Homo sapiens: one gene and its partners. The protein of the gene in region 3 purifies or fractionates together with the protein of the main gene of each other region. This does not show direct contact. Each region holds a gene or a part of one and is shown on either strand. Other genes may lie near its edges.

Region 1 (3,524 bases), on a different chromosome or scaffold from region 3:
CAGTTGACTATTATTAGCTGTCATAAGTAACTCAGCCATTTGGAAGCATTTCCTGGACAAAATTACATTATACCTGTGAAGAAAAATATAGAAGCTTTCAAGCTGTCATTCTGTTTTGGCCCTGTGTGAATTTGGTATATTAAATTGACGCTTGCTTTTTTTTTCAGTAGAGTTTTCTTTTTAATCAATCAAACGCCTACATTTCTGGAAGAAAAAGTCCAATTAGATCATTACACCTTAACTAAGAAGGCAAATCTTATAAATTTTGCTTGAATTGTTCTTACTCAAAACTACCTTAGAATATGGTATCTTATGAAAATATAATATTCTTAAAATTTTGGAGGATAAAATGAAAAGGGTATAAACTTCAATTAGAACTTTAATCCTAAAATATTGTTATTCTTGTATTTTTGGAGTTTTCCGTCCCTTACAATTTCTCCAAATTGGTCTATTCCCCAAGATATCCACTGTTTTCTACAGATTTTAGAATATAAAATTAAACATATCAACCTAAAATCTAGCTATGAATGTTATTTCAAGAGTTTTATATTTTTAATTGGCTTTTTAAAAATATGTAATTCCAATATTATAGTGAATGTTCAGTAACTTTTGTTGAAAGATAATGTGGTTTAGGCTTGCTAAAGAAAGGCTTGCTAGAATACTAAATTTACCTTGTTATTTGGAAAGAGAATCTGCTCCTATAACGTTTTAAAAATCCCCAAAGTCCCAGAGATTAGCACTTGCTATGGATTTTGGAACTATGGTTCAAGTCTAAGACAACCAATATGAATAAGTTCAATGGAGAAGGAAGAAGTAGCATTCAGCACAAGAAACTGTAGATTGTTTCTCCCACTTGTTACTGCATCTTTGTTCATTTCACCCATAGCATTGCATTTGATGTCTGAAGTAATTACCACAAAATAAAGGTAAACTACATCTTCCAAGATGTACCAACAGAAAACATTCGTCTAATTTTGTCAACATTGAATTTTTAGGATTTAAATCTTGTCTTAATGAAGACTCTAGGGCTAAAATTCATGGTCAGTTCCATAAAATGCATCTCACTTTATTTCTGAATTTTTCACAACCCCTCTATTTTCTTACATTAAAGAACATCTGGATAAGTTAGAATAGTGCCAACTTGTTTGATTTGTTATATGATTTTCTTGTTAATGTGTTGAGTATGGGAAATAAGGGCTTTCTGTGTGTCTTGACTCACAGGAAAACTGAAACTGCCAAGGGAAGCAACATTAAAACAACTGGGATAGATTGAATACATTTGAAAAAATAATTTCTGGAAAAACGCTATACATGCTTTTTATGTTTATATCTTCTTTCTTATTAAGACATGAATCAGATCCATGTGGCATTCAAAACAAATTTATTTTGGTTATATTCTTTACAAGTCATAATTTTTACCTAAAATTGTGGAATATGCATGTGAATTACACATGTGTAGTAATAAACTCAACTATTGAATTTTTCCTGTTTCATTTCTAAATGACTGAACTGATGGTAAACAAATTTAATGAAGTCAGCTACCATGTTGAAAATAAGGATATTAGAACTGATTTCATACAATAGAGGTGATCTGTGCATTATCCATAACAACGTTTTCTTTCACTATAGGACCACAGACAAATATTTATGTAAATAGGTATTTTTGTGTGATATTTTGTGGTACATATAACTTTTTTTAGTGTTTCACAGCATTATTATTTCATTTTATTTGTATTGAATAATGTTTTTAGGTCCAAGTAGACTTGAATTAATGTCATAATTGTCAGTATTATTGAAAATTATGTCAACTGTACTGTTATTCATCTGTCCCATAGTTTAGAACATGACCTGGCTATCTGGCATTGTTGCAAGTGCCTTAAATTCATGGCATCCTATTAAAAAAACAAATTTGGTGTTATGCTGCATGACAAAGACAAACACACCTCAAAATGTTGTCCTTTCTTAGCTTGCTGCGTTTTACAGTTCTTTCTGCTAACAATTTATAAGCCTTTATTATATAATATTGATGAATTACAGAAATGATGAAGTTGTTCTCTTATTTCTGTTAAATGTACCAGAGCTGTGTATCTGTTAATGAGATACAGCGTCATTTCTGTGAAATGTATAAATGTATGTGCAGGTCAAATTAATATATGACATTCTATCAGTCTGTATACAGGTATTCCTGTTTTGCTAAGCTGTGCAGATTCTGTAAAAATAAATTAGTGCAGTCAAGTTCTAACATATCTCATTTTATAGACTCCATTGACAATGGTCCAACCGAAAAGAAAAATTGGAAATGACTGCTAACCAGACCTCGTTATGAAACCAATGATGAAAAAGTCACTTGGTGCACCTCTCAACAAAACAGGATGCTTTTTCCGAGTTCTTGTATATGCAAATCATTTACGAGGCAAGTTTTCAACAGACCTAGAAAGCAAAACATTGAAAGTGTGTTGTTAGCCCTCCTCTCTGCCCCTGAATCAACAGACAGAGCTCTGGGACCTTGGCAATGACTCAGAGGTTGGGGCTTTCTGAGTAAAGGGACATTTCTTTAAGCATCATCTATCAAATTTATTTCAATGTATGATGTTTTTACAACTGGTCAGTTCTTTTGTATTCTTACAGCTATGGTTATTTGATTGTCCTCTTACAATTTGTTCTACATGAAAGAGTTCTTTGTTAGTCAGAATGCAACAAACTGTCATCAAATGGTCATTGACCACTTGCACTCTTTTGATGTAGATTAAAAACTTTTTCATAAATTTACCTGCTTTGATTTGCTCTGTATTTTTCCTGCAGCTGTAATTGCTGAGTGCCTGTTGTATACTTTATAGAGTTGAAATAAAAAAATAATTACTTTTGAACTTAGTTGATGTTTAATTCCAGACAAGATTCCAAGAATAGAATTGGTATATCATACTAGATGAAATACCAGGTAGTGCTGTTGTAGAATGTCACTATAACAAAGTAGGAAATACCTATAATCCAAGCATCCCTCATGAAATAATATACTATATTATAATCTAATATAAAACTAATCCAACAAATTGGTTTTAAAGAATTCATAGGAATAATGTTGGGCCATCCAGTGTGAAAAGCAAAGTGAATATAGATATTCACACAAACTCAGAAATTAGCAGATTTCTGAGCATGACCACCACACAGTCCTTTTTTGGGCTATCCCTAGTCAAACTCTGTACTAGGCAAAACAATCAAAGGGACAATTCTTGTATATTACTACATCCTAGGAGGAAATGATTTCATATGAAAAGCAACTTCATGAGTCTTTGTCCAAGGATTTTTCACCTGATTCCTTGGCTTCATCATATGCACAAAGAAGAAACATTTGGGGAACAATATGATTACAACAAATTCAACTCTCCAAAGCCTAGTTAAACATATTCTTTCTACATCCCTTTGTCCTTCTCTGCAGTAAATGATGCACACATGAAAACTGGCTGCAGCATGAAGATTCTCTCAATTACATTGTTTTTGTCTTTTTGACCTCACATTGCCAGTGA
Region 2 (3,660 bases), on a different chromosome or scaffold from region 3:
TCACCGTGTTAGCCAGGCTGGTCTCTATCTCCTGACCTCATGATCTTCCCGCCTTGGCCTCCCAAAGTGCTGGGATTACAGGTGGGAGCCACCATGCCCAGCCCAGAACCACTTTGTTTTTAAAAATTATGCCAATGAAAAGAAATCCAGTGAAATTTGTTTTATCTAAAACTTTTTCTTTTTTTCTTTTTCTTTTTTCTTTTTTTTTGGGGATGGAGTCTTGCTCTGTCACCCAGGGTGGAGTGCAGTGATGTGATCTTGGCTCACTGTAACCTCCGCCTCCCGGGTTCAAGTGAGTCTCCTGCCTCAGCCTCCAGAGTAACTGGGATTACAGGCGGGCGTCACCTCACCTGGCTAATTTTGTATTTTTAGTAGAGATAAGGTTTCAGCATGTTGGCCAGGCTGGTCTCGAACTCCTGACCTCAAGTGATCCACCTGCATCAGCCTTTCAAAGTGCTGGGATTACAGGCGTGAGCCACTACACCCAGCCTAAAACTTTTTCTATTACTGATTATGAGATATATGTGGGCCAGGTACAGTGGACTCATGCCTGTGATCCTAGCACCATGGGAGGCTGAGGCGGGAGTTTGAGTCCAGCCTGGACAACATAGTGAGACCCCAGCTCTACCAAAAATAAGTTAAAAATTAACTGGATGTGGTGGCACACACAGGTAGTCCCAGCTACCTGGGACTACAAATTCTAGGTAAAAAAAAATCTCGAAAATACATGGGAAGTTTCTTGTAGAAATTCCCTGTAGAATTGTCAGTCCATATGTTCTTTTCATTCTAAGTGTTAATGTACTTTACTATTTATATAGTTTGGACTCAGTGAAAAGGTTACATAGAAATCAATTAATTGTAGTTTTTTTTGTTTGTTTGTTTTTTGTTTTGTTTTGTTTTGAGACAGAGTTTCACTCTTGTTGCCTGGGCTGGAGTACAATGGCGTGGGTGGCCTCAGCTCACTGCAACCTCTGCCTCCCAGGTTCAAGCGATTCTCCTGCCTCAGCCTCCCGAGTAGCTGGGATTACAGGAATGCACCACCATGCCTGGCTAATTTTTTGTGTTTTTAGTAGAGATGGGGTTTCTCCATGTTGGTAAGGCTGGTCTCAAACTCCTGACCTCAGGTGATCCACCCGTCTCAGCCTCCCAAAGTACTGGGATTACAGGCGTGAGCCACTGTGCCCGGCCAGTGGTTTTAAGTAATGGTATATTAACTGGTAAAGAAAAGGAACAAACTACAGCAACATGAACAGTGAAAATGAATTACATAAATAATGTTGAACAACAACAAAAAGAACGTAAAGGAATACATACAGCTGATGCAGCAAGACAAGGAAAATAAAGGCATAAGATGGGAAAAAGAGTGATGAAATCGTTATGTGTAGATGACTTGATTGGCTTCACATATAAACTGTTGGAAATAATTAGTAAATTAGCAAAATTGCTGGTTGCAAAGTCAATAAACAAAAATAAAAATATTTCAATATACTAACAAGATTAAAAACAAAATGAAAATACCATTTAGAATATCATCAAAAATATCAAACCTAGGTCCATTGGTGCATTCTGATAGTCCCAGCTATTTGGGAGGCCGAGGTGGGAGAATCACATCAAGTCAGGAGTTTGAGGCTGCAGTACACTATGATCTATCTGTGAGTAGCCACTGTACTCCAGCCTAGAGACCCCATCTCTAAAAAATAAAAATTGAAAACTTTGGCCAGGCATGGTGGCTCACGCCTATAATCCCAGCACTTTGGGAGTAGAGGCAGGCAGATCACTTGAGGTCAGGAGTTTGAGACCAGCCTGGTCAACATGGCAAAACCCTGTCTCTACTAAAACTACAAAAATTAGCTGGGCGTGTTGGTGCGCGCCTGTATTCCCAGCTACTTGGGAGGCTGAGGCAGGAGAATTGCTTGAGCCCAGGAAGCTGAGGTTGCAGTGAGCCAAGCTTGCTCCATTGCACTCCAGCCTCAGTGACAAGCGTGAAACTCTGTCTCAAAAAAAAACAAAAAACTGAAAACTTGAAAAACAATTTAAAAATCAAATATTTAGGAATAAATATCACTAAAGATATTCAAAACTTAAAAACATAACTGGGTAAATTTGAAGAGGAAGTAATTGACAACTATATCGTGTTCATTTTTCCTCAAATTGTTCTAGATTTAATGCAATCAGTTGAAATATGATCAGTTTTTTAAATTAAATTGACAAACTGATTAAAATATGTATTCATTTATTTTTTGAGACGGAGTCTCGCACTGTCGCCCAGGCTGGAGTGCAGTGGTACCATCTCGGCTCACTGCAACCTCCGCCTCCCGGGTTCAAGCAAGTCTCCTGCCTCAGCCTCCTGAGTAGCTGGAACTACAGGTGCATGCCACCACACCTAGCTAATTTTCATATTTTTAATAGAGACGAAGTTCCACCATGTTGGCCAGGATGGCCTTGATCTCTTGACCTTGTGATTCGCCTGCCTCGTCCTCCCAAAGTACTGGGATTACAAGCGTGAGCCACCGCGCCTGGCTGAAAGGACGATTTTTTTTTTTTTTTTTTTTTTTTTTTTTTTGAGACGGAGTCTCGCTCTGTCGCCCCGGCGGGACTGCGGACTGCAGTGGCGCAATCTCGGCTCACTGCAAGCTCCGCTTCCCGGGTTCACGCCATTCTCCTGCCTCAGCCTCCCGAGTAGCTGGGACTACAGGCGCCCGCCACCGCGCCCGGCTAATTTTTTTTTGTATTTTTAGTAGAGACGGGGTTTCACCTTGTTAGCCAGGATGGTCTCGATCTCCTGACCTCATGATCCACCCGCCTCGGCCTCCCAAAGTGCTGGGATTACAGGCGTGAGCCACCGCGCCCGGCCCGATTTTTTTTTTTCAATAAATAATGCTGGGTCAATTGGATATCTATGTAGGAAAAACATGAACCTTGATTCCCTACCACATATCATACACAAATTTTTTTTTTTTTTTTTTTTGAGATGGAGTCTTGCTCTGTTGCCCAGGCTGGAGTACAGTGACACTATTTTGGCTCACTGCAACATCTGCCTTCTAGGTTCAAGCAATTCTCCTGCTTCAGCCTCCTGAGTAGCTGGGATTACAGGCGCATGCCACTATGCCCGGCTAATTTTTGTATTTTTAGTAGAGACGGGGTTTCACCATGTTGGACCAGGCTGGTCTCGAACACCTGACCTCAGGTGAATCGCCCGCCTTGGCCTCCCAAAGTGCTGGGATTACAGGCATGAGCCACTGCACCTGGCCCCACAAAATTTAATTATAGGTGTGAGCCACTGCACTTGGCCTAAAATCATTTTTAGTTATAAAAATAATACTAGGTCATGGTAAAAAAAATTAATTGAGTGTAGAACCTACAAAATGAAACTGGTAATACTCTTCCACCTCCTGCCAGCTCCACTAGTCCCACTCCCAGAGGGTATATATAGACATTATGAATCTTGCTTTTTAAAGTAAAGTTTTAAGTGGAAATTTTTTAAAAAGTTCCAGTCACTTGGAAAATATTCATAAGCAAATATTTCAGTACTATTTTTACTGTTTCTTAGATTTCTGCACCTAATGAATTTGATGTCATGTTTAAACTGGAAGTCCCCAGAATTCAACTAGAAGAATATTCCAACACTCGTGCATATTACTTTGTGAAATTTAAAAGAAA
Region 3 (3,660 bases):
ATCTGTCGTGTTCCTAACTCCAAACTCCTTTTCCATGCCCAGTTGGAGCATCACTTCCTAATGACCTGTGGCTTTTTGCTTTACCTACACCTCTGGTCCTTCCCTGTCTTCCCATTTGCTGTAGGTATTGGAGATTGCTGATGACCACATCCATTCCTTTCTTAAGGTTGTATCAGCCTGCGTTAAACACGCCATGTGCGGGTGTGTTGGTTTCCAAAGGCTGCCATAACAAGTGACCACAACTAGGTGGCTTAAAACAACAGAAGTTTATTCTCTCCCAGTTCTGGAGGCCAACAGTTCAAAGTCCAGGTTTTGGCACAGCTGTGCTCCCTCTGAAGCACACGTGGTTAAGTCTCTAGAGATGGGAGGATTATTCTGCATTACCTGGTTTGGCCTGATGTTATCACAGGGGTCTTTTTCCTCTTAATTTTAATTTTTAATTGAATTAATTAATACATTTTTCTCCACTTTTACTTTAGGTTCAAGGAGGTACATGTGTGGGGTTTTACATGGGTAAATTGCATGTCGCTGAGGCTTGGTGTATGAATGATCCCATCACCTAGGTAGTGAGCATAGAACCCAACAGGTAGCCTTCCAACCCATGATTCTAACCCATGTTTTTTCAGAAATAGTGTCTCGCTCTGTCACCCAAGCTGGGGGGCAGTGGTGCCATTATAGCTCACTGCAGTCTCCAATTCCTGGGCTCAAGGGATCCTCCAGCCTCAGTCTCCTGAGTAGCTGGGACTACAGGTTTGTGCCACCACGCCTAGCTTTTTTTTTTTTTTTTTTTTTTTTTGTAGAGATGGGAGTCTCACTAGGTTCCCCAGGCTGGTCTCAAACTCTTGGTCTTAAGCAATCCTCCCACCTCAGCCTCTCAAAGTGCTGTAATTACAGGCGTGAGCCACTGTGCTTATAAGGACAAGGGTACTTATAAGATGGAGGCAGGAGGGTTAGAGTTGGAGTGTGGTGGTGTTGGAGTTAGAGTTAGGTGGTGTGATGTTGGAAGTAGAGAGAGAGGCTGGAAGATGCTATGCTATTGGCTTTGAAGATGGAGGAAGGGGCCATGAGCCAAGAAATTTGGACAACCTCAAGGAGCTTGAAAAGGTGAGGAAGCATATATATGTATATATATATATGTGTATATATATATGTGTATAGATGTGTATATATATGTGTATATATGTGTATATATGTATATATGTGTATATATGTATATATGTGTATATATATGTGCATATATGTGTATATATGTATATATGTGTATATATATGTGTATATGTGTGTGTGTATATATATGTATATATATATTTTTTGGTTGGTGCAAAAGTAATTTTGAGACAGGGTCTTGTTCTGTCACCCAGGCTGAATGCAGTGGCACAATCATGGCTCACTGCAACCTTGATCTCCCTTGCTCAAGTGATCGTCCTGCCTCAGCCTCCCAACTAGCTGGGACTACAGCTAATTTATTTATTTATTTTTGTAGAGACGGGGTATTGTTATGTTGCTCAGGCTGGTCTCAAACTCCTGTTCTCAAGTGATCCTCCCGCCTCAGCCTCCCAAAGTGTTGGGATTACAGGTGTGAGCCACTGTGCCTGGCTCAAATTCATGTGTTTTAAGCCACTAAGTTTAGGGCATTTTTTTAAAACAGCAGTAAGAGGCAAGTAATTACTGTTCTATACAAATATTGTACTTTTGCTGGCAACACAGACAAGATGGGCTAGCTCACCTGGAGGTGGGGAAGGGCACTCAGCTTGAAAGTTGAAGGCCAACCTTGGTTGTTCTCAGATGTTGTAAGTTGGCCTTATAGTTGCTGAGGACGGTGCCTATTGAAGGAATATTCATTGCCAACACTGCCCCTTCCACAGGGCAGAATATTTGTGGTGTGTGAGTGCATATGTGTGCGTGGTATGAGTGCATGTGTGTGCATGTGTGTGAGTGCATGTGTGTGCATGGTGTGCATGCATGTGTGTGCATGAGTGCATGTGTGCATGTGTGTGAGTGCATGTGTGTGCATGGTGTGAGTACGTGTGTGCATGTGTGTGAGTGCATGTATGCATGTGTGTATGCATGTATGTGTGTGCGTGTGTGCGTGTGTGCATGGTGTGAGTACATGTGTGTGCATGTGTGAGTGTGTGTGTGCATGTTTGTGTATGCATGTACGTGTGTGTGTGTGTGTGTATGTGTGCATGAGCCCCCAATGTTTGGACCGCCTTATGCAGTGGTTCCTGGGCCTAAATTTTCTTCAACAACTGCAGAGACAGGGATGGTCTCACAGTTCTCAAAATAGAAGTTGATGGGATAGCAGAACAAAAACAGCCACAGTGAGTATCAAAAGATGGTTTAGGAGATGTTTGGAACTAAATGCCACATGTGCTTCTGGGTTGGAAAAGAATGTCCTATAAAGGCCCTTCTTGGAATGACTGTCGAAATCATCCCAATGGGCTGTATTGGGACAATAATATATGACTCCTAGTCTCCTGAATTTGATCATGGCATGGAGGTTATTGAAGAGAATATTCTTGTTCTCAGAGATCCCTATGAAAGCATTTAAGGGTAAAGAGATGTCTGGCAGTCTACTCTCAAAGGGCTCAGTATAAACAACAACTATAACAATGGGCCAGGTGAGGTGGCTCACGCTTGTAATCCCAGAGCTTTGGGAGGCCAGGTGGGAGGATCACTTGAGCCCAGGAGTTTGAGACCAGCCTGGCCAATGTAGCGAGTTATAGCCCCATCTCTTAAAAAAAGATTAAAAACAACTGTAACAACAACAATAATAACGTGTGCACACACAAACTGTAACATAGCAAATGTTGCACATGGGTACTGCATCTATGTGAGGGGATCATAGGAGTTTACTGAATCATTTTTCTAACTTTTTAAATGTTTCAAAGCTTCAGAATAAGATGTCAGGTCGGGGGGATAATTTTTTGAAAAAATCTGTCTGAAGAAGCCGGGAAAATTGGGGTCAGAGAGCAAAGACCAGGGGTCCAGTGAAAGTAGGGGTTAGGGTGGGCACAGGGGTGACTGCTCAGAGCGTCCTGATCCTTCTGGGTCCAGTTAGGGAAGTTCCCCATTCATAGACTCCCCAACCTCTGTGAAGTTTGCTAAACTCATTTACATCTTCATTTACATGCCAGATTGGTACTCAGTTAGCCTTCAAACTTCTGTGCAAACGGGGTATAGATTCCGCCTCCCATAACTTGAATATAAATTAATCTGTCTGTGAACTGTGGAATTTGATTGGCCTCTTTGGCCTCAATTAATACAGTTGTCTCCAGTGCGGTTCCCAGGAAAGCTGAGAGGGCTCAGTGGTCTAACCTGGGAAGGTTCTTCTTGGATGGCTTTTCTCTAATAAGCACTGAGCATGCAGGGGAGTTTGTGTTGACAGATTTACTTCTCCTTTTGGGGATGGGAGGGGGAAGGCCAGTGCACCTGTTTCACAGCTGGTGCCTTAATTGGTTCTCTTGTTTCGGCCGCACTTCTGACTGTTGCCCCCGGCACCTGCCTGAACGGAGCTCAGAGCCTGTCCTGGCATCCACAGGCCTGACTGCCACCCCCTTCTCTGAGCAATGCTCCGTTTCATGTCTCCACCTGCTCACCAGCTTTCTCTCTTGCAAAAATTAATTGAGATCTCGCATCTTTGGGTACCCCCCTTTCTCT

Evidence for each region.
Region 1: the proteins of OAS2 (region 3) and PRKG1 purify together in Homo sapiens (affinity purification with mass spectrometry; 2 studies listed by BioGRID and IntAct, with this or other methods). This does not show direct contact.
Region 2: the proteins of OAS2 (region 3) and CGAS purify together in Homo sapiens (affinity purification with western blotting; one study listed by BioGRID). This does not show direct contact.

What each region holds. Positions count from the first base shown.
Region 1 is NC_000010.11:52,295,484-52,299,007, forward strand, and holds the end of PRKG1 (cGMP-dependent protein kinase 1), read left to right. Parts: 3' UTR 1-2,867; downstream 2,868-3,524. UniProt on the Homo sapiens protein: Serine/threonine protein kinase that acts as a key mediator of the nitric oxide (NO)/cGMP signaling pathway. GMP binding activates PRKG1, which phosphorylates serines and threonines on many cellular proteins.
Region 2 is NC_000006.12:73,445,638-73,449,297, reverse strand, and holds part of CGAS (cyclic GMP-AMP synthase), read left to right. Parts: intron 1-3,550; coding exon 3,551-3,660. UniProt on the Homo sapiens protein: Nucleotidyltransferase that catalyzes the formation of cyclic GMP-AMP (2',3'-cGAMP) from ATP and GTP and plays a key role in innate immunity.
Region 3 is NC_000012.12:112,999,000-113,002,659, reverse strand, and holds part of OAS2 (2'-5'-oligoadenylate synthase 2), read right to left. Parts: intron 1-3,660.